Regions from separate parts of the Homo sapiens genome. Here region 2 is linked to region 1. Evidence: fine-mapped QTL for protein levels in blood plasma. Region 1 holds a variant in brackets. A gene starts in the other region. All regions are shown on their forward strands. Region 1 overlaps ZPR1 (ZPR1 zinc finger). Region 2 holds the start of AGRP (agouti related neuropeptide).

What was found. A credible set is the group of variants that fine-mapping cannot tell apart. PIP is the posterior inclusion probability: the model's chance that the variant is causal. Protein levels are from antibody-based Olink assays in UK Biobank. Linkage for the fine-mapping came from a reference panel and not from the study's own genotypes, which makes the PIPs less certain.
Region 2: it holds the start of AGRP, and the variant in region 1 is the best candidate, but not a certain one, in a credible set for the plasma level of the AGRP protein (UK Biobank, PIP 0.83).

The regions. Positions count from the first base shown.
Region 1 is chr11:116,776,502-116,784,501 of GRCh38, forward strand. ZPR1 (ZPR1 zinc finger) reads right to left here. Exons shown (of 14, transcript NM_003904.5): 9 at 7,877-7,947; 10 at 7,029-7,118; 11 at 6,418-6,528; 12 at 5,657-5,743; 13 at 3,271-3,336; 14 at 1-2,558. The coding sequence ends at 2,424. Among named protein-coding and RNA genes, the nearest start is that of BUD13-DT, 7.0 kb to the left of the region's middle. The variant G/C (reference allele first, on the strand shown) is at 1,700.
Region 2 is chr16:67,480,229-67,492,882 of GRCh38, forward strand. It overlaps AGRP (agouti related neuropeptide), which reads right to left and starts at 3,319. Exons shown (of 4, transcript NM_001138.2): 1 at 3,289-3,319; 2 at 3,041-3,173; 3 at 2,797-2,882; 4 at 2,343-2,590. The coding sequence starts at 3,170. The coding sequence ends at 2,408. It overlaps ATP6V0D1 (ATPase H+ transporting V0 subunit d1), which reads right to left and starts at 929. Exons shown (of 8, transcript NM_004691.5): 1 at 729-929. The coding sequence starts at 858. It overlaps ATP6V0D1-DT (ATP6V0D1 divergent transcript), which reads left to right and starts at 1,166. Exons shown (of 4, transcript NR_184227.1): 1 at 1,166-1,291; 2 at 3,882-4,100; 3 at 11,797-11,893. RefSeq lists enhancers at 480-719, 880-929, 8,492-8,571 and a silencer at 1,040-1,209.

The DNA of each region.
Region 1 (8,000 bases):
ACTTTATGAAATGAGAAAGGAGCTGAAAGATAATTCAAGAGAAGGGTATGAAACTGAAGAATGCCTTGTCATCAAAGGGCAGGAAGTACCTTAGCTGGGTTATCCCAGTCTGGCACCTGGTCCTCAGTCTTCAAGTTCAGAAACTCAGGTCATCATTTCCTAGGAACTGGGTGGATTCTGGGAGATTGCCTCACACCAACCAAACTCACAAGAGATTCAGTAATAAGCCAGAGTGCCATTTTTTTTCCTTCACAATGGAAAATGAACCTGATACTGCAGTTTATCTTAACAGAGCACACCTACACTATGGGGAAGTCTACTTAAGAGACCAAATGATAGATCAGAGGGTTGTCTGGTAAACTTAGATTCCCAAGTCAGCTGGAAACATACCTAGAGATAATCTCTTAGGGTAGAATAGTTGCCTGTGAGAAGTTTGCCCAAAGTACTGAAGCTTTATAGTTTGAATGAGTCATTTGCTAACCTGAGTCTCCAAACACCTTACTCTCGCCCTCACTTACAGAAATTAGAGATACAGGTATGGAAGTTAGTCCCACATGATAGTAAGATGCCAAAGAATCTGATATGGAGAGATGTCTGAAAGCAGAACTCTCAGAAACAAATTTAGTAAGAGGGGAGGAGGCAAAGTGTCCAAATAAGAAATATTCAAAGTGAAGGGAAAACCAAGGGTACAGTATCTCGAGAGCCAAAAGAAGGGTTAAGAAGAGATGGTCCACTATCAAATGTGACAGAAATAGATAACACTTTCCAAGTGGAAAATCACTTGTGACCTTTGAGAGTAGTTTAACAGAGCAACGAGAGTAGATGTCTGATTGCTAAATCATCTCTAACTCATTCTTCAGAGTTAAGTTTGCAACACAGCCGGACGCGGTAGCTCACGCCTGTAATCCTAGCACTTTGGGAGGCCAAGGCTGGCGGATTGCCTGAGCTCAGGAGTTCGAGACCAGCCTGGGCAACACGGTGAAACCCCGTCTCTACTAAAATACAAAAGAAATTAGCTGGGTGTGGCGGCGTGCGCCTGTAGTCCCCGCTACTCGGGAGGCTGAGGCAGAATTGCTTAAACCCGGGAGGCAAAGGTTGCAATAAGCCAAGATCACACCACTGCACTCCAGCCTGGGCAACAGCGCGAGACTCTGTCTCTACCAAAAAAAAAAAAAAAAAAAGTTTGCAACACAAAGCAATAAGGTTTGTGATAACATCTTAATCAATGAACTGGTCTTTATTGAACAAATACCCTGCAGTCTGCACCACAGGAGTCACCTTTTGTTTATGAGAGGCAGGAGACTACAGTGCAAAGAACACTGGCTGGGAAGTCCAGGGCCCAAGCAGCAGAGTGTTCACTGGTCCTTAACTTTCAGAAGAACTGCAGAGAGCCTCCTTTCTCTCTGGATGAATGTGTTTCAACATTTCTAACTGAGAGTAGGGCTAACTGATCAGGTACCCCCACTGGCTCTAACCTCACAGCTCTAGCATTTGCAGTTCCCTCTGCCAGGAAATCTCTTCCCCCAGATACCCACACAGCTCACTCCCTGACCTCCTCCTCAGCTTTGCCCAAATGTCAAATTATCACCTTCTTGTTCAGAAGATCTTCCCTACTCCCCATTTCCTTGCACAACCCAGCCCCATTCCCTGCTTTACATTCCTCCATGACACTAATCACCATCTGATGTACTGTTTTCCT[G/C]ATCTGTTTATTGTCATTTTTCCCCACTAGACTTCAAGTTCCATGAAAGAGATTTATTTTGTCCTCTGTTCTGTGGTGTGCTTGGCATAAAGTAGATAAGCAAGCATCTGCTGAAGGAATGAATTAAATGCCAGCTGCAATCCCCAAATTACAGTAGATACACGGGAAAATTTTCTTTAGGAGGCTGAATTCTAACAGCATGATATCAAACAAGGATAGGGTCAATACAGAGGCCAGTGCTGTTTGAAAGTCATCATTTCAATGGTAACTCCTTCACTTGTGCTGGACTCGGTCTCCCCTCAGGAGACTCCTTTCCTGTTCAAAGTCAGTATTTTATATACTCAAAACCAACAACAAACTCCAGGTGTAACTTTATTCCACCTTCTCCAACTTCAGAGTTCCAACCTTAGAGGATAGAGCATTATGTGGAAGGAGGGTGAGGACTTGATATGAAAAAAGTGATGACATACCCCTGGTTCATTTCTGGGTTTCCTCCTAGGCCAATTCAAAACTTCCAAAATAAGGTCAAGTAACACAATAGGCTCACACTTGCATCACAAGCTGTTTAGAAAGTGTGCACAGATCTCTGACTCAGACCAGATGTCCTCCCCACCATGGGCAAGGGCTGGTGGGAAAGACACTCCCAGCCTTCGCCTTCATCCAATACTAATAAATAACCTACAGAAAGAGCAGCGCTGGAGGCTGGCCCTTGAGCCACCCACTGCTACCGTTGCGGAGCCAGGCCTGCCTCATAGCCCTCTGTCTTCATGTCATTGAGCCCTAGCTCCTCATTTTGGTCAAAGGTGCGCTTGTAACGCTCCACCTTCATCTCAGGATCATCTTCAGGCGCATACACATTCTGCAAGGTCAAGGAGAGACAATCAGTGCCGCTGTGCCACTCCCCCTCTCTGCAGGCAGCTTCCAATTCCCACCTTCCCAAGAACAGAATGAGTTTTGGGTTTTTTTCTTTTTATTGGCCTCCAATTTCCCATGGCTAGACTGAACTAGTGGGTAGCAACAGAGCCCACATGGGCCAGGGGTAGAAGACCCCAGCCCCAGAATCAGGGAACAATCCACCTATTTTGTTATATCTGCACCTTCTTATGAAAAGTATGACAAATGGTCTTAATCTTGGAAAGAACTTAGAAGAGTTTTGCCTGACCCATGGTAAGTATCCAATAAATGGTAAAGGTACATCAATCACCAGACTCTCTCCTCAGTCAACTTAAAGCCTATCAGTTTCCTATCTTGGCCTCCGGACAAGGTACCATTTCTCCTCAATCCATAATCAGATTTGCAAAATGAAAACTCCAGAACTGGGACAAGAGCTTGACTACAGAAAAAAAAGGGGCCTCAGAGTATCCTTTTTTTTTCCTTCTTTACATACACTTAAAAAAAAAATCCCCTCCCACACCCCCCTCTTTTCTCCCTTATGTATCTTCTAACTTCTGCCTCCTTGGTAAAAAGCAGTCCATTTAGAATCAAGTCTTTCAGTTTCTAGGGAAATGATACATATTCAAGGAAGATCAGAAAATGTATCTCTATGAAACATCAGGGAAGGTCTACTATACCTGCAAGTAACTGTTTCCTGCTGGATCATCCATAATAAAGTGGGCCTTCATGTTACCTTCGATGATCTAAAGGAGAGAGAGAACACAGCAAGTAAATTTTACATAACCCCTGGTAAAAAGAGGCTATGTCGGGGGAGGGGGGAGGGATAGCATTAGGAGATATACCTAATGTAAATGACTAGTTAATGGGTACAGCACACCAACATGGCACATGTATACATATGTAACAAACCTGCACGTTGTGCACATGTACCCTAGAACTTAAGTATAATAAATATATATATAAATAAAAAAAGAAATGAAATAAATGAAAGTAAAGAAAAATTTTTAAAAAAAGAGGCTATGCCTGCCAGACAAGAACCAACCCAATTTATATTACAGAATCCCCAAAAGTTTTAAGAATTGGTGAAATTAGGTAGCTCTGAAAGTAGAGGGGAAAGGTTCTAAAATAAGGACTGTTAGAAAAGCCAACATCAGCAAGCTGTGGACTAGGGGGTGCTGGCCCAGTTGAAGGTAGAGGGAAAGGAATCAAGAACAAGTAGGTTAAATGAATGTAAGCTTATGGGAAACAGAATACATACACACCCCAGCCCCCTTCCCACAGCTCTCAGAACACTGCCAGCCAAGCCTTTACCCTCAGGCCAGGAAATGGAGCAGCCACAGTCATTTAACCTCCTTGTTCTTGAGTCCTTTCCCTCTACCTTCAACTGGGCCAGCACCCCCTGGTCCACAGCTTGCTGATGTTGGCTTTTCTAACAGTCCTTATTTTAGATCCTTTCCCCTCTACTTTCAGAGCTACCTAATTTCACCAATTCTTAAAACTTTGGAGGATTCTGTAATATAAATTGGGTTGGTTCTTGTCTGGCAGGCATAGCCTCTTTGTCTGACTAGCCCAAGAGGAAAGACCTAACAATTCTGGCATTGGAGGCCACCTCAGCAAAACAGCTAAGTTAAATTCCCCTGTAATAAGCCCCATGTCAACAAGGCTCACCCCCTACTCAGGTCTTTAGCCCGCTACTTGTAAGAAGACAATCAATGATTATCAGACATCTGAGCAAAGCCCTTAACACTGAAAGATGGGAAATCAAATGGGGAAAAAAAGGATGCAAGGAGAATAAAATGTCAAAAAAGATCCAACATCAGTATCAATAAGTGCTATATAAACTGCATGCTGAAAAAATTTAAAAAATAATAATCCTCAAGAAGAAAAAATACTACATCCTTAAGACAGGATGCTATTTTTTAAAAAGCTCCTTGGAAAATAAAAGTTTTAGTGGAAATGAAAACCTCAATTGAAGGGTTGGAAAATAAAGTTGAGGGAATCTCCCAAAGAAGAACAAAAAAACCAAGAAACCAAAAATAGGACCAAAAAAAGAGTAAATTATAGAAGACCAGACAAGTAAGTCTAATATCTAAAACCCAGGAGTTTTCAGAAAGAACAGAAAAAAAAAATCAGAAAAAAGATAATCTTCAATAGAATAATTCATGAAAGCTTCCTAGAACTGAACCACATGAGTTTTCCAGACTGAAAAAATACATCTACCAAGTGCTTAGCCCAGTGGATGAAAACTGACCCACACCAAGGCACACCCTGAAATTTCACATCAAAGGAAACGAAGAGATCACAAGACTAGGTCACATATAAAAGACCAGGAATCAAATGGCTTCAGACTTCTCAATAGCCAAAGTGGAAGACTATAGTACAATGTCTTTACCAAACTGGAAGACCATAGTGCAGTCTTCGAAATTCTGATAAAAAATTATTTCTATCCTAGAATCGTATTCCCAGCCAATAATCACTCTAGTGTGATAACAGAATAAAGACATGTTCAGATGTGGAAGGTCCCAGAAATTTTATTTCCCATGCACTTTTTCCCAGGAAGCTACTGGAGAAGATGCTCTAACAAAATAAGGGAGAAAAACAAGAAAGAAGACGTGGAATATAGAAAACCAGAAGAGGGCCAGGTGCGGTGGCTCACGCCTGTAATCCCAGCACTTTGGGAAGCCCAGGCAGGCAGATCACGAGGTCAGGAGTTCGAGACCAGTCTGGCCAACATAGTGAAACCCTGTCTCTACTAAAAATACAAAAAATTAGCCAGGCGTGGTGGTGTGCGCCTGTAATCCCAGCTACTCGGGAGGCTGAGGCAGCAGAATCGCATGAACCCGGGAGGCAGAGGTTGCAGTGAGCCGAGATCACGCCACTGCACTCCAGCCTGGGCAACAGAACGAGACTCTGTCTCCAAAAAAAAAAAAAAGAAAAGAAAACCAGAAGAAGAATCCCCAACATGATGGTTAGATGTTCAAAAAGTGGCAAGACATGAGCATGCAGCCTCCTGTTCACTGGAGCCCCAGGATTCTAAGTACTGACTGGCCAGTGACCTCTTACCTGGTCCATCTTCTGGCTAAACTCCTGTAGTCTCTCCGTCTGTCCAGGATTGGAACTGTCGCCCAGTGTGAAAGGATTTTTGGTCACCTGCAATAAATGATAATCCAAACTATGTGAATACTGGCTTTATATTTGTTAGGCCTGACCATAAACTAGGCAGGGGGTGACAGTGGGTGCCCTGTCAGGGAAACTTGGTTTCCATTTAGCCCACACCACCTTTCTGACCAAGGCAGTCACTCCTAGGAGTCTATGGGATAATGTGCCAAGATAACAAAACTGGCAATGTAAAACAAAATCGAAACATGTTCTTAGAATATGATCTCTGATACTAATTTGGAGAAGAAATGCAAAGAAAAAGTACAATTTACAAATACAAAATGCCCAACAGAGAATCAAGTGAAATAATTCATCAAGGAGATAAACATTTGGGCTAAGTCAACCCATACATGTATGTTTTTTATGTTGGGAAGTTTTAGGTGCTAGAAGGACCCTCATCCCCTAACTTTACAGTAAAATAAATGACTTGTCCAAGACCACAAAATAACTATAAAGTCCCAAAGTTAGGCCTGGAATTTCCATTCAACATTTCCCATAAACTTGTCTTCACCATCCAAAGTAATATTTAAGTCTCTTAAACCAGCTTTAAGGCAAAGAAACCCACAGTTACCAGCACCGAAAATTAGGATGTCTGAAGTCTTCCAGTCCCTCTTCACACAGCCAAATTGCTCAAAGGTGGTTTACACACTACTCAAGTGACTCACCAGTTCCCGGATGTCTTTCAGCAGCCCTTCCAGTGTGGTGAACTTGCCCCCGAGGACTGCCATTCCCAGTTCAAATTCTAGCTCTGGGATTTCCACACTGCAAGTCTCAGACTGTGAAATGAGAGGTCAGTTTAAGCTTTAAGTCAGAAGCAAAGAAAGCCAACCAGAGGCCTCCTGCCCAATTAATACCAGCAGTGATAGACTGCGGACAAGGGCAGCTGTCTCAGTTTTCTCTGACTCCCTTGTTAAAGCTTGAGACTCACTCCTGTCCATCTGAACCACGGGAATAGATCCAACTTAATAAAGGGAAACTCAGTCATAGCTTCGAGCTGTCAGGTATCCTGTCACTAGGGGACAGACAGAGAAGAGGACCCAGATAGACACTGGAGGCCAAAAAGCTACCAGGTCATCAGAAAGAGCTAACAGGGTCACCTTCTAAACCTGCAATTCCAATCTTAGATTAACTCCCTCTGCTCAGGGGTCCTCAAAGCCAGGGAAGTAGGAGATACCTCATGTCCCTGAACATTATTTCTAAAAGACAACTTCCCCTAGATAGAGACAGTTTATCTAACTTATGAGGACAACAGTGACTTTCCCAAGCAGACTGTTACCTTGAGGAGGTCTCTGGTCATATCTGAGGCATCTGTGATGTGGAGGGTGATCCTGGTGCCCAAGGGTTCTACTGCTCCTCCAGATTTCACCTGCATCGATAACAGTCAGGAGCAACAGAGAGAAGACCTGAGCCTCACTTGGTACCCAGGAGACCTGGAGTGTAGGCTTGGACATCCAATCAGTTAGGGCCATTAATAGCTACCAAAGAAAGAGCCTTCTAAACAGCAGTCGCCCAAACCAAAAACACCAAGAGCTGGCCAGGAACAGTGCCCAACCCTGGTAACGTGCCAAAACTTATCCCAAATTGCCAATAAACTCTGAATTTACCTTAAAAAAAAAAAAAAAAAAAAGACTTTTGGGGTTGAAAGAGACTTTTAAGCATTTATTGCAGTCCTTTCATCCACTGCATCCAATGTGTGGGTCTCCTTTATAATATTCTGGTTAAAGAATTTAATTAGCTTATACTCAGATACACTCAGGGGAAGGGAATTTATAATTCTCTAAGGCAGCTCATTCTATTTTCAGACAGCTCTATTGAGTTCTTCATTGTGAAGTCAAAGTCTGCCTCCCTGAACTTCCACACCTCTGAGGAGTGGGTCAAAAGACTTCTCTCTTCCATATCATCAACCTTTAATATGTCTTAAACAAGTTATAGAATCTCTAACTTTTCTTCTCTAGGCTAATTCCCATTCCTTCAAGGGCTCATCACCCTGCACTAGACCTAAGAAAAAGACCCAAGCTACTCTACACCCCCTGCCCCCGAGTACTGAAGTACTTAGGAAGAATGATAGTTAAAAGGGGGTTACCCTTAAGCTAGTCTTCTTCCCAAATAATGGCGCCCACCCACCTCATTGGTCCGATGCCCACAGTTCTCGCAGTTGGTAGCCATGATGATAACCTCCTTAAAGTGAGGGATTTCTGGAAAACGGAGTTAAGGAAATCTACTTCCAGGCGAACAAGACCACCATCTG
Region 2 (12,654 bases), not on the chromosome of region 1:
ACGCCACTCTGGAGCTGTGTGCTGAGAAGAAAGGGGAACTCGGTTTCTCATTACTCTTGTGCTCAGAAACCCTGTCCCAACAGGCATCCCCCTCGCTGAGGGGGTGGGATTAATTGGCCAAATACTTGTATATGAACTTCCAGACCTGCAAGGGCCACCCTTGTTCTCCCAAACATTGCCTTCAGGAGATACTGCCCAGCCAGCAGTTCAGAGTTGGGAGAAAACCCTCGATAAACTGGCTCAGCAATTCCCCAGGAAGGCTCACCCCGCAGGCCAACGCGAAGACACGATGATCCCAAAGACCTTAGTGTCTTGGCGGGGGGAGGGGGAAGAGGTGGGGGACTTTTCCGCTTAGCTTCCCTAAGGGTTGCTACGCGACAGCTCTCGGGCTACGTCAGGGTAAAGAGGTTTGTATGGCCACACCTCGCACCGACCAACTACCCCCGAAACACCCCCTCCTCCCAAACTGCAGGGTGAGCACAGCGAGAGAAAAGGTGGCCCAAGCAGAGGCGAACAACTGCGGTTCTTAAAGCCTTGTTTGAGTTTGGGCCCGCGCCGAGCCACAGCTAGAGGTAGATCCCGCTCCTGCGCGTCCGCTATCAGCCCCAGGATTCCCAGAGAGGCCTCTCAGGCCCTTCAAGACCCCCCCTTCCGGCTTCCCGGCCTACACCTCTGAACCCTCAGGCCCCGGACAGCCTCTATCCCCGCCTTTCGCGGCCCCGGCTCACCCTCTAGCGTCTCGCACTGCACCAGGTTGAGGTAGTCGGCCTGGCTGAGCACCCCGGCCTTCAGGCCGCGCACCAGTCCCTCCAAGTAGCCATTGTCCACGTTAAAGTAAAGCTCCGGGAAGAACGACATGGCTGCTGCGGGAGCGGCGGGACCGGAGAACCAGGACCGGCCGGCACGAATCGCGACTCCCCAGGTCAGCTGACGCTGCGTCCTCAGCGGGCTGTCAAGTGCGTCAGGTGACGCGCAAGCGCCTCACGTGACCATAAGGGGGCGTGGCTCTGAGCGGTGCCCGGCTTCCGGGTGGCTGCGCGGAAGCGCGGTGCAGGCGTGGGCTGGCCCTGCGGCGCCTGCGCGCTAAAAAGAGGAAGTTTGAGGCCGGCCGCTTGGTGGCGCCTGTGGCCGCAGGGATTTGACTGGGCCTTCTCTAGCTTTCCCCGGTTTGCTGCACTTGACGCTGCAGGGCGGGCGGGGTAAAGAAGGGAGCGAGCCCTTCTCAAGCTTGGAAAGTTTCCAGACTGCTGGGCCAGCCTCCTCCCCAGAGGGAAACTGAGGTCCGATTGAGGTAGGAGAATAGGGTCTGGAGGCGGGGAACTTGAGGCCAATACGTGCTGAATTCTGAAGCTGAATCAAGGGAAAACACCAAGGTCTGGGGGCAGGGAACCGGAGGCCAACTAAGGCGAGCTTACTAAAGCTAAACCAAAAAGAAAAACCCCATCTCCCCATGTCCAAGTAACAAAGGATCAAAGGCCACTGTCCCCACAACCCTCCCCCTTCCACCACGTCTCAGTTGAAAGGGAGAGTGCCTTGGATTGGCTGCGGGCCAAGCACGGGCCATCCCTTCATCTGCATAGGGCGCCAATTCACCTTAGCCCCATTTATGCCTTGTGTTCCATTATTGGAACGCTAAGCATATGGGAGTTATTTATATCCTACTGCTCAAGGTCATGGCCAAGGTCTGATTGCAAAAATTCAAAAAGATTGCAACCTCAGGCATAAATGGATTAATTAGCCATGGACCAAACCCTTCATCCAGATAAGGGGTAACGGACAGGGACCGCAAAAGGAGTACTTAAAACCCGGAAAACTTTGTAACTGAGCCCCTTCAGCCTCTTGCTCAGGCCCACTCCCACCCTGCGTAGTGCTTTCTCGCTTTAACAAATCCCAGCTGTCTGCTTCCTTCCTGTGTGTCATTCGTTTGTTACTTTCTGGGTTTTGTTCAATTCTTTGTTCGAAACGCTAAGGACCTGAACAACGCACACTCCTGGCCTTCCCTCTGGTAACAGGATGAGGGGCAGGCTTTGCGTGGAAGTAGCAGCAAGCCCTGGAGCCTAAGGCTTATTTGTTAGCCAGGAGTGATAGCCCCTGTGCCACGCTGCGTCCTGCGTTCCCCGCACTTGCTGTACAAGATTTTCGAAAGCTGGAGTGCGGCTCTTCTCTATTTTTCCCAGGGGCACCAGGACCCCTAAAAGCGCCCGTGTATGTGCCTCCTATGATAGGGTAGCCCAGGCCCTGGGATAAGAGTATGTGTGGTTTCTTGGCTTGGTGACACTCCCACCCCCTCCATGAACCCTCCCTCCTTTGACGGCCACGTTTGAAATAACCACAGCCTTGGGGTTGGTCCCATCCTTTATTCGAGTTTCCTTGCCCCTACCCTAGCCCCGACCCTGACGTTGGCCAGCTAGGTGCGGCTGCAGGGATTCATGGCAGTACCCAGCTTGCGGCAGTAGCAGAAGGCATTGAAGAAGCGGCAGTAGCACGTGGCACATGGGTCACAGCAAGGCACCTGCTGTCCCAGGCAGGACTCATGCAGCCTTACGCAGCGACGTGAGGAGCGGGGCTCGCGGTCCTGCAGGTCTAGTACCTGCAGGGGTGGGGAACCAGCACAGGCCTCTAAAGACAGATCCAGGGATCTTACCTGTCCCAACCTGTGCAGGATGGCAGTGGAGCATGGGAAGGGGTGGTCGGTAGTGTCGTCGCTGGTGAGGGAGTTTGGAGCTGGGGAGAGGAGCTAATACCCAATGCCCCCTCCCAAGGGCCACCACCTTACCCTTTTCCCTGAGCAGTTACCTCTGCCAAGGCCTGAGCCTCCTGCAACAGATCCTCTTCTGCCTGTTCTGCAGTTGTCTTCTTCAGTGGGGCCCGCAGGCCCAGGCCTGGGGCAGAGGATGTGAGGGCAGGAACCCCCATGCACAAAGCACCCACCTCCCAGGGGAGGGTTTGGGAAGGGAGAAAGAGGGTTTATGCCAGGGGAGACTATTTGTGGCCAGAGGGTATTCAGGCCCCGCCCAGTCCCACCCTTGCTCACACTGACCTGGGAGCTCTGGGAGCAGGGCCTGGTCAGGCCTTCTGATGCCCTCCATGGGGGCCAAGCCCATCTGGGCTCCTCGCGTGGCAGGCAGTGCCAGCAGCAGGGCACAGCTCAGCACCGCTGCGGTCAGCATGGCCTGGCTCAGCAGGAAGATGTACCACTTAGTCCCTCCTTATCCTTGGAGTCCCCTCTAGGTGCCCAGATAGAGACCCCACAGAGAGGAGGAGTCCCTGCCCAACCTGAGGACTCACCTCTGCCTCCGGGATTCTTGCCTAGAGAGTTCCCGGCCACCCCGTGCCCTTGGCTTATATGGCAGGGCCTAATGAAGGGCCACACGTGACTGATCCCTGCAGCCAGGCCGTGAAGGACCCTTCCTGGAGGGTGGGGGCACAGTTCAGGCCCTCACTCCCTGAACCTGAGCCTTTTGTTCTACAAGAGGAGTGCCTATCTCCAATTTGGGGTGAGGTTTCCAGGAGCCGATTAAAATTTGGGAGCAAGAGAGGGTGCCCAGGGTCCACAAATTTCCACAGGACAGGGACCTAGGAGCTGAGCAGGGCTAGAACCATTAGCAATAACAAGGCAGGCGGCCCTGAAAGCTTAATTTAATTTGTGGCCCCAGAGATGCTTACTCAACCCCTATGTGGCATGTTGTTTCCTGTGCTTCCAAGAATTCGGGTCAAGGACATTGGAGCGGGTGATGGGCCAATGGCCACTGTTGGGCAGGGGTAGGTGCAGAACCAGAACCTGGGTTTCTTTGGAGGGAAAGGGGAAGGAAAAGCCCACCTAACCAATCCTAGGCCCTCCTGACTACATTTCTGGTCCTCCCCTCCCTTTCTCCCTCCAGGTTTCTCCAAGACCGCCCACTCCTGCTCCTGTCCCCAAACCCCTTTCTGCCTAGGGTTCCTGGAAGCCAAGGAAACAGAACGAACTGTTCCCTGGGTGGGCGAGCCACTGCAGAGTACAAAGCTTTCAGGCCGCCTGCCTCATTAGCACTAATGGCTGCTCCCTTCCGCCCTGTGTCGTCAGGACTGTCTATGCCTGGTCTCATCAGCACAAGGCTGGGGTAAGGACTGCCCTTTTGTGGAGATGGCAGGACATACAGGACCCTGCTGCCCCTGCCTTCCCTCACCCCACTGCAGAGCTGTTTATCACACACGTGTCCATCTGGGAAAGGAATGCAGGCTGAATCAGCTTTGAGAGGATCGCAAGGCCCCAGTGCACAAACTGGGTTGGCACAAGGCAGTGGAAAAAAGATGAAGGGGGCCAGGTATGGTGGCTCACACCTGTAATTCCAGCATTTTGAGAGGCCAAGGTGGGAGGATCACAAGGCCAGGGGTTTAAGACCAGCCTGGGTATCATGGTGAGACCCCGTTGCTACAAAAAATAAAAAAATAGCTGGGTGTAGTGGTGCATGCCTGTAGTAGAGGCTGAGGTGGGAGGATGGCTTGAGCACAGGGATTCAAGAGTGCAGTGAGCTATGACTGCATCACCACACTCCAGGCTGAGCGACAGAGCAAGATCCTGTCTCAAAAAGAAAAGAAGATAAAGGGTGGCCAGGCACGGTGGCTCACGCCTGTAATCCCAGCATTTTGGGAGGCCAAGGTGGGCGGATCACTGGAGGTCAGGAGTTCAAACCAGCTTGGCCAATATGGTGAAACCCTATCTCTACTAAAAATACAAAAGTTATTCAGGCATGGTGGCACATGCCTGTAATCCCACCTACCCGGGAGGCTGAGGCAGGAGAATCACTTGTAACACGGGAGGCAGAGACTGCAGTGAGCAGAGATCGCACCACTGCACTCCAACCTGGGTGACAGAGTGAGACTCCATCTTAAAAAAAAAATGCTATTTAAAATGAAATGAAGCAATCCATACTCCCAACATTTATATATACTGGGACATCCAAGAAATTAAAATCACACCTCATTATGTCTTTTTCTTTGAGTCAGGGTCTCACTCTGTCACCCAGGCTGGGCCTGGTCAGCACCCATGCTATGGAGAGCTCTTCATGGTCTGGTGTGGACAGAGTGGGAGTGGAAGATCTCCTCCCACACAGGTGCTCAGTGTCTTACCTCACCTACGGGCAGCAGCTGTCTTCACCTGAGTGTGTGCACACAGGTGTATCAGCCCCATGGGCAGTGATGGACGAGGGCTGAGGCACTCACAGGGCAGCCCATGCCCCGGTCAGGTCCAGTGGGGGAGATATCAAGAAAACCCAGCGCCAAAATGCAATGAGCTGTGATCGCGCTACTGCACTCCAGCCTGGGCGACAAAGCAAGTTGCCGTCTCAAAAAACAAAAACAAAACTAAACAAAAAAAAAAAAACGGCCAGGTGTAGTGATTCACACCTTCTTGAGCCCAGGAGTGGCAACATAGTGAGACTCTGTCTCTACCAAAAAAAAAAAATTTAATTAGCTGAATGTGGTGATGCACACCTGTAGTCCCAGCTACTCAGGAGACAGGGAGGAGGATAGCTTCGGCCCAGGAGATTGAGGCTGCAGTGAGCCATGGTGGTGGTGGCTCACGCCTATAATCCCAGCACTTTGGGAGGCTGAGGCAGGCAGATCACTTGAGCCTAGGAATTCGAGGCCAGCCTGGGCAACATGGCGAAACCCAGTCCCCATTAAAAAAAAAAAAAAAAAAGGCCAGGTGCGGTGGCTCACGCCTGTAATCCCAGCACTTTGGGAGGCCGAGGTGGGCAGATCACAAGGTCAGGAGATGGAGACTATCCTGCCTAGCACAGCAAAACCCCATCTCTACTAAAAATACAAAAAAAAAAAAAATTTAGCCGGGCGTCATAGCGGGCACCTGTAATCACAGCTACTTGGGAGGCTGAGGCAGGAGAATGGTGTGAACCCAGGAGGCAGAGCTTGCGGTGAGCCGAGATCGCGCCACTGCACTCCAGCCTGGGTGACTGAGCGAGACTCTCTCAAAAAAAAAAAAAAAAGTTTCACAGCCGGATGCAGTGGCTCACGCCTGTAATCCCAGCATTTTGGGAGGCCAAGGTGGGCAGATCATGAGGTCAGGAGTTCAAGACCAGCCTGGCCAACATGGTGAAGCCCCATCTCTACTAAAAATACAAAAATTAGCTGGGCATGGTGGCACGCACCTATGATCCTAGATACTTGGGAGGCTGAGGCAGGAGATTTACTTGAACTGGGACCCAGGAGGCGGAGGTTGCAGTTAGCTGAGATCGTGCCACTGCACTCCAGCCTGGTAACACTCCAGCCTGGTAACAGAGTGAGACTCCATCTCAAAAAAAAAAAAGTTTCACTATGTGGGTAATTTTACGGTAAGGAACCAGCCTGATATTCCCAGGACAATGCTTGTTGGCAAAAGGACCTTCAGAAATATGTGGCATGTTCTGGGAGGAGGATTTGGGAAACCCTGGGGGAGGCAGAGCCTCCTAAGTGAGGGTGTGGGCCCGGAACACAGGGACTCTGTGCAGGGAGGAGAAAGGGGAGAGTGTGCATGCTCGTTCCAGAGACCACATGAGGACAGAGAGGGGTGCTCAAACCCTCTCCCTTCTCTTCTTTTTCCTCCTGCAGTGTACTCCCCTTCAAGGGCCCTGTTCCCACCTTGTCCAGGGGAGAGGGTGGGGGGTGCAGGGAAAAACTGCAAGCACCCGTGGCTCTGTCAATCAGGGTTGATTTTGAAACCCCTACCCAGCCCATTGCCCCTGCCCCAGAGAGCACAGCCATGTGTTTCCTGTGAATCATCTGTAGGATTTCCTAAGGCAGAGGTTGCCTGGAGAGGCACGGTCTCCTCAGTCATTCAGGGAGAGGAGAAGATGGATGGGGGTTCTCTCGGGCTGGTGTATTGAGCCCTGAGCTAGAGAGGATCTGTGATTGTTAATTTTGTGTGTCAACTTGACTGGGCCAGGAATGCCCAGATATCTGGTTAAATATTATTTCTAGGTGTGCCTGTGAGGGTGTTTCCAGAATCATCCAATCCTTTGAGGGTTGGAATAAAACAAAAAGATAGAGAAAGTTGGTGCCGTGGCTCATGCCTGTAATCCCACCACTTTGGGAAGCCGAGGTGGGAGACTGTCTTGAGCCCAGGAGTTTGAGACCAGCCTGGGTAACATACAGAGACCCAATCTCTACAAAAAAATTTAAAAATAGCCAGACACAGTGGTGCACATCAGTGGTCCCAGTGACTCCAGAGGCTGAGGTGGGGAGGATCGCTTGATCCCAGGAGGTTAAAGCTGTAGTGAGCCATGATCACACTACTGCATTCCAGCTTATGCACATGAGACCTTGTCTTAAAAAAATAAAAAATTTTAAAAAAGAAAGAAAACTGGAAACAATCCAAATATCCATCAACAGCAAAATGGATAATAACATTATAGTGATATAATTGGGCCAGGCACAGTGGCTCACACCTGTAATCCTGGCACTTTGGAAGGCCGAGACGAGTGGATCACTTGAGCTCAGGAGTTCCAGACCAGCCTGAGCAACATGACAAAACCCTGTCTCTTCAAAAATTACAAAAATTAGCTAGACATGGTGGCGCAAGCCTGTAGTCCCAGCTTCTCGAGAGGCTGAGGTGGGAGGATCACTTGAATCCAGGAGGCAGAGGTTGCAGTGAACCAAGATTGCACCACTGCACTCCAGCATGGGTGACAGAGTGAGACCCTATCTCAAACAAACAAACAAAAGTATGTTTATATAATTGACAACTATACAGCAATGACAAGAGAATAAACTACTGCTACACACTGCAACATGAATGAATTGCACAGACATAAGGTTGAATGAAAGAAGCATGCTGCAGAAGAGTGAGGATGGAATGAATCCAGCCCTATGACATTCAGACCCAAGCAAAATTATAATAAATGGTGATAAAACACAACAGCGGTTAACTCTGGGAGGGTGGGAAATTATTGACTGAGGGGGGAAATGAGGAAAACATGTGAGGTGTTGGAAAGGTTTTGTATCTTGATCTCAGTGGTGGTCACGCAGGTATATAAGTATGTAAAATTTCATCAAGCTGCACATTTAAGACTTGTGTATTTTGCCAAGTGCAGTGGCTCACACCTGTAATCCCAGCACTTTGGGAGGCCAAAGTGGGCAGATCACCTGAGATCAGGAGTTCGAGACCAGCCTGGCCAATATGGCAAAACCTCGTCTCCACTAAAAATAAAAAATTAGCCAGATGTGGTGGTGTGTGCCTGTAGTCCCAGCTACTCAGGAGGTTCAGGCAGGAGAATCACTTGAACCCAGGAGGCGGAGGTTGCAGTCAGCCAAGATTGTGCCACTGCACTCCAGCCTGGGTGACAGAGTAAGACTCCATCTCAAAATATATATATATATTGTATTTTTTATTGGATATTATGTCTCAATGAAAACATTTTTTCTTTTCCTTTATTAGTGGCTCAAAAAATAATGGAGTGTCTGGCTGGACGCTGTGGCTCCCGCCTGTAATCCCAGCACTTTGGGAGGCCGAGGCGGGTGGATCACAAGGTCAGGTCAGGAGTTCGAGACCAGCCTGACCAACATGGTGAAACTCCATCTCTACTAAAAATACAAAAATTAGCCAGGCACGGTGGCACGTGCCTGTAATTCCAGCTACTCAGGAGGCTGAGGCAGGAGAATTGCTTGAACCCTGGAGGCGGAGGGTTGCGGTGAGCCGAGATTGCATCACTGCACTCCAGCCTGGGTGACAGAGCGAGACTCCGTCTCAAAAAAAAAAAAGAAAAAGAAAGAAAGAAACTTCCCTCATCTCTGTAGCTATTTGTGTAACTTCCCCTATCTGTGTAACTACTGTTAACTGTGCAGCTGTGGGCATGTCTTTAGGAAAGCATATGTAGCTTCTCTTGTCTCTGTAGTTGCAGGTATGTTTTAGGTAAGTCTCCCCATCCCCCTCCCTGTGCAAGTTCCCACAGAGCTCACCATTTGCATGCCTGAAAAGGGGAGGAAACATTTTCCTGGGAGCCTGCTGATTATGCAAAGAACAAAGGCCTCTATCCTGGGCCTTGCTCCCTTATCTGTGCAGCTGCAGCTTGATTTTTCCCCAGGCTGCTCTATCTGTGCCTGTAGCTTTGATTTTTCAAAAGAATTTTACCAAGGACTAGCCATAGCTGTCTGCCCAACTGCTTTATTCCTTTTCTCCTCCCTCAGCATCCTATAGGAGAAAGTCACCTTTGTCTCCAAATTCCCTGGTCCTGGTTTTGAAAATCCTGCTGGCACCTACTGCTGAAGGCTGTGGCTGGAGAATTCAGTGAGCTACTCTGATCTGGACAGGGTCTGATGGTCCTCACTTGACCTAAGCTGAGCTCTCCCAGGCTGTGAGCATCCCCAAGGTCAGCCTGTGACTCTCACAGAAGTTCTGACCTCCAGAGCCTTCCCCCTGCTGTGGCCTTTGGGGTAGAGTAGGTTACATGGGCCAGCACCATCTGCCAAAGTCAGGGCCAGAAACCTATCCATGGGAGCCAGATTTGGCTTTTGGCTTGGGCTAGTATTGACTTTGGGCACATTCTCATCCCAGAAAGAATAATTTGGGGTATGGGATTTCATGTTTTCTTTAGTACAGCCTTGAAAGCCACGTGTACAGGGTGTTTTCTTGCTAAGATAGCAGTCGGGCTATATTTGAGCAGTCCAGAGAAGTTTAAACTACAGAGGCATCTGGATATTGTCACAGTCTTGTCTGAGGTCAATAGCTTGCAAGCGGTAGAGCTGAGAGTCATACTGGGGAGTCTGACCCTGTAATGACCCCCTGGTCACTATGCTCAGAAATAATGACACCTGGAGTTGTATTTTTCAGCACAGATTGACTTTGAATAATAAATACGTAAGAATATTTCTTCAATTACACACACACACACACACACACACACACACACACACACACACACACATACATACACAATTATGCCATTTCTCATCTTCCCTGAAGCACATGGCCCTTTGGCCTCTCTTTTATTTTCATACTTTTTTTTTTTTTTGAGATGAAGTCTGGCTCTGTCGCCCAGGTGGAGTGCAGTGGCACAGTCTCAGCTCACTGCAACCCCTCCTGGGTTCAAGCAGTTCTCCTGCCTCAGCCTCCCAGGTAGCTGGGATTACAGGCGTGTGTCACCACACCCAGCTAATTTTTGTATTTTTAGTGTAGACGGGGTTTCACCACGTTGGCCAGGCTGGTCTTGAACTTCAGGTGACTTCAGGTGATCCACCTGCCTCGGCCTCTCAAAGTGGTAGGATTACAGCCATGAGCTACCATGCCCGGCCTGTCATACTTTTTTTCGGAAACAAAAGATTAGTTCTGTATTTCAACATTAACAATGACCACACTCTGACTCAATATTGGGGAAGTTTTGAAACCAACCCAATAGTCCCATAGACAGCTTTTTTGGATAAACATAGAAATCAACCCTTCTGATCCTAAAGCTTGAAACTTACATTTGTTTTATCTGAGTTCCCCTCTCAGGAAAGGATCCCCAGTCCTCTCAAAAAGTATCAAAGAACTGAAACCCACCAGATCATCCCATCCAGACAATGAGACTCAAGGGCCCTCATTCATCATGATTTGCTTCCTTACCCCTTGCATTTGTTTTCCCACACACAATTACATTTCTTCCCTGCTATATAAACTCCTAATTTTAGTCCATCAGGGAGATGGATTTGAGACCGATCTCCCGTCTTCTCACCTGCATCACCCGATTAAAGCCTTCTTCCTTGGCAATAATTGTCTCAGTGATTGGCTTTCTGTGTGGTGAGCAGCATGACCTAGACCAAACCTGTGGTATTTTAATAACAGTTTGAAGAGTGTGAGTTTGGCCTGAAGGGAGAAGCCATTGATGGCAGGCAGAGATGTAGGCCCAGGTTTGCCAGAGCTTCAGACTTTTTTTTTTTTTTAAGATGGAATCTCGCTCTGTTGCCCAGGCTGGAGCACAATGGCGTGATCTTGGCTCACTGCAACCTCCACCTCCTGGGTTCAGGCAATTCTCCTGCCTCAGTCTCCCGAGTAGCTGGGATTACAGGCATGTGCCACCACACCCAGCTAAGAGCTTCAGGTTTTTAAAGAAAAGAGAGAAAACAGAAGTTTTTTTTTTTTTTTTTGAGACGGAGTCTCACTCTGTCGCCCAGGCTGGAGTGCAGTGGTGCGATCTCGGCTCACTGCAAGCTCTGTCTCCCAGGTTCACGCCATTCTCCTGCCTCAGCCTCCCGAGTAGCTGTTCTACAGGCGCCCACCACCACACCCGGCTAATTTTTTGAATTTTTAGTAGAGACAGGGTTTCACCGTGTTAGCCAGGATGGTCTCAATCTCCTGACCTCATGATCTGCCTGCCTTGACCTCCCAAAGTGCTGGGGTTACAGGCGTGAGCCAAGAAAACAGAACTTTTAAATGATGTTTACATGTCTAGCTTCAAAAAATGCCATGCAGGTTGTCGGTTTCCCACTTCCAGGGTAACTGGATGGAATTTCTGCCTTCATGGTGGTTCAAGCCTGAAGTGCCTTGAGACCAGAAGTAAAGAGTTCCTTCCTCCTGCAGCACTGCTAGGTTTCCTGGAGGAGACGGTCTGTAGGTGGGGTTCCTAAAGGTGGAGAGAAGAGGAAGTTACTTCCTAAAGAGAAGGAAGATAGGGGGTAACTTCAGTGTGGCTTTTGCAGAGTTGTTCATGACAGGAATCCTATCAGGCCCTGAAGTTTCCATCAGCACAGCCCCCAACCCTCACTGTCCCACACCCTTAGCTTCCTGGTTCTAGTCTCAAGGGATTCTGCTCACTTCTGTCCTCGCTTTTTTTCTCCCTGGGAACCAAGTAACAGCTGAAGAAGTCCCAGGAGTCCTCCCATGTCCTCTCAGCAACCCAGGCTGGAGCCTACTCCTTGGTGTTGGCAAAGGAAACCGTCTTTGAAGGTGAGACCTTTTTTTTTTTTTTTTTTTGAGACGGAGTCTCCCTCTGTTGCCCAGGCTGGAGTGCAGTGGCGCAATCTCAGCTCGCTGCAACCTCCCCCTCCTGAATTCAAGCAATCCTCCTGCCTCAGCCTCCTGAGTAGCTGGGATTACAGATGTGCATCACCACGCCCGGCTAATTTTTTTTGTATTTTTAGTAGAGATGGGGTTTCACCATGTTGGTCAGGCTGGCCTCGAGCCCCTGACCTCATGATCAGGACTTCCTAACCGCGCCCGGCCCAAAGGTGAGGCCTCTTACAGCTGTAATAAAGAGAAGAGAAGGCTGGGTGCAGTGGCTCACGCCTGTAATCCCAGCACTTCAGGAAGCCAAGATAGGCAGATGGCTTGAGGTCAGGAGTTTGAGACCAGCCTGGCCAACATGGTGAAACCCTGTCTCTACTAAAAGTACAAAATAATTAGCCAGTGTGGTGGCACATGCCTATGGTCCCAGCTTTTCAGGAGGCTGAGGCAGGAGAATTGCTTGAGTCCAGGAGGCAGAGGTTGCAGTGAGCCAATATTACACCACTGCATTCCAGCCTGGGCGACAGAGCAAGACACCATCTCAAAAAAAAAAAAAAAGAGAGAGAAGAGAGGAGGGTCTGAAGACTTCCTGCTGGCTGAGTGTTATCTGCCTCAGGCTACCCTGACTTTTTCACTGTTTTTCACTTTTTTTTTTTTTTTGAGATAGTCTCACTGTGTAGCCCAGGCTGATGTGCATAACACAG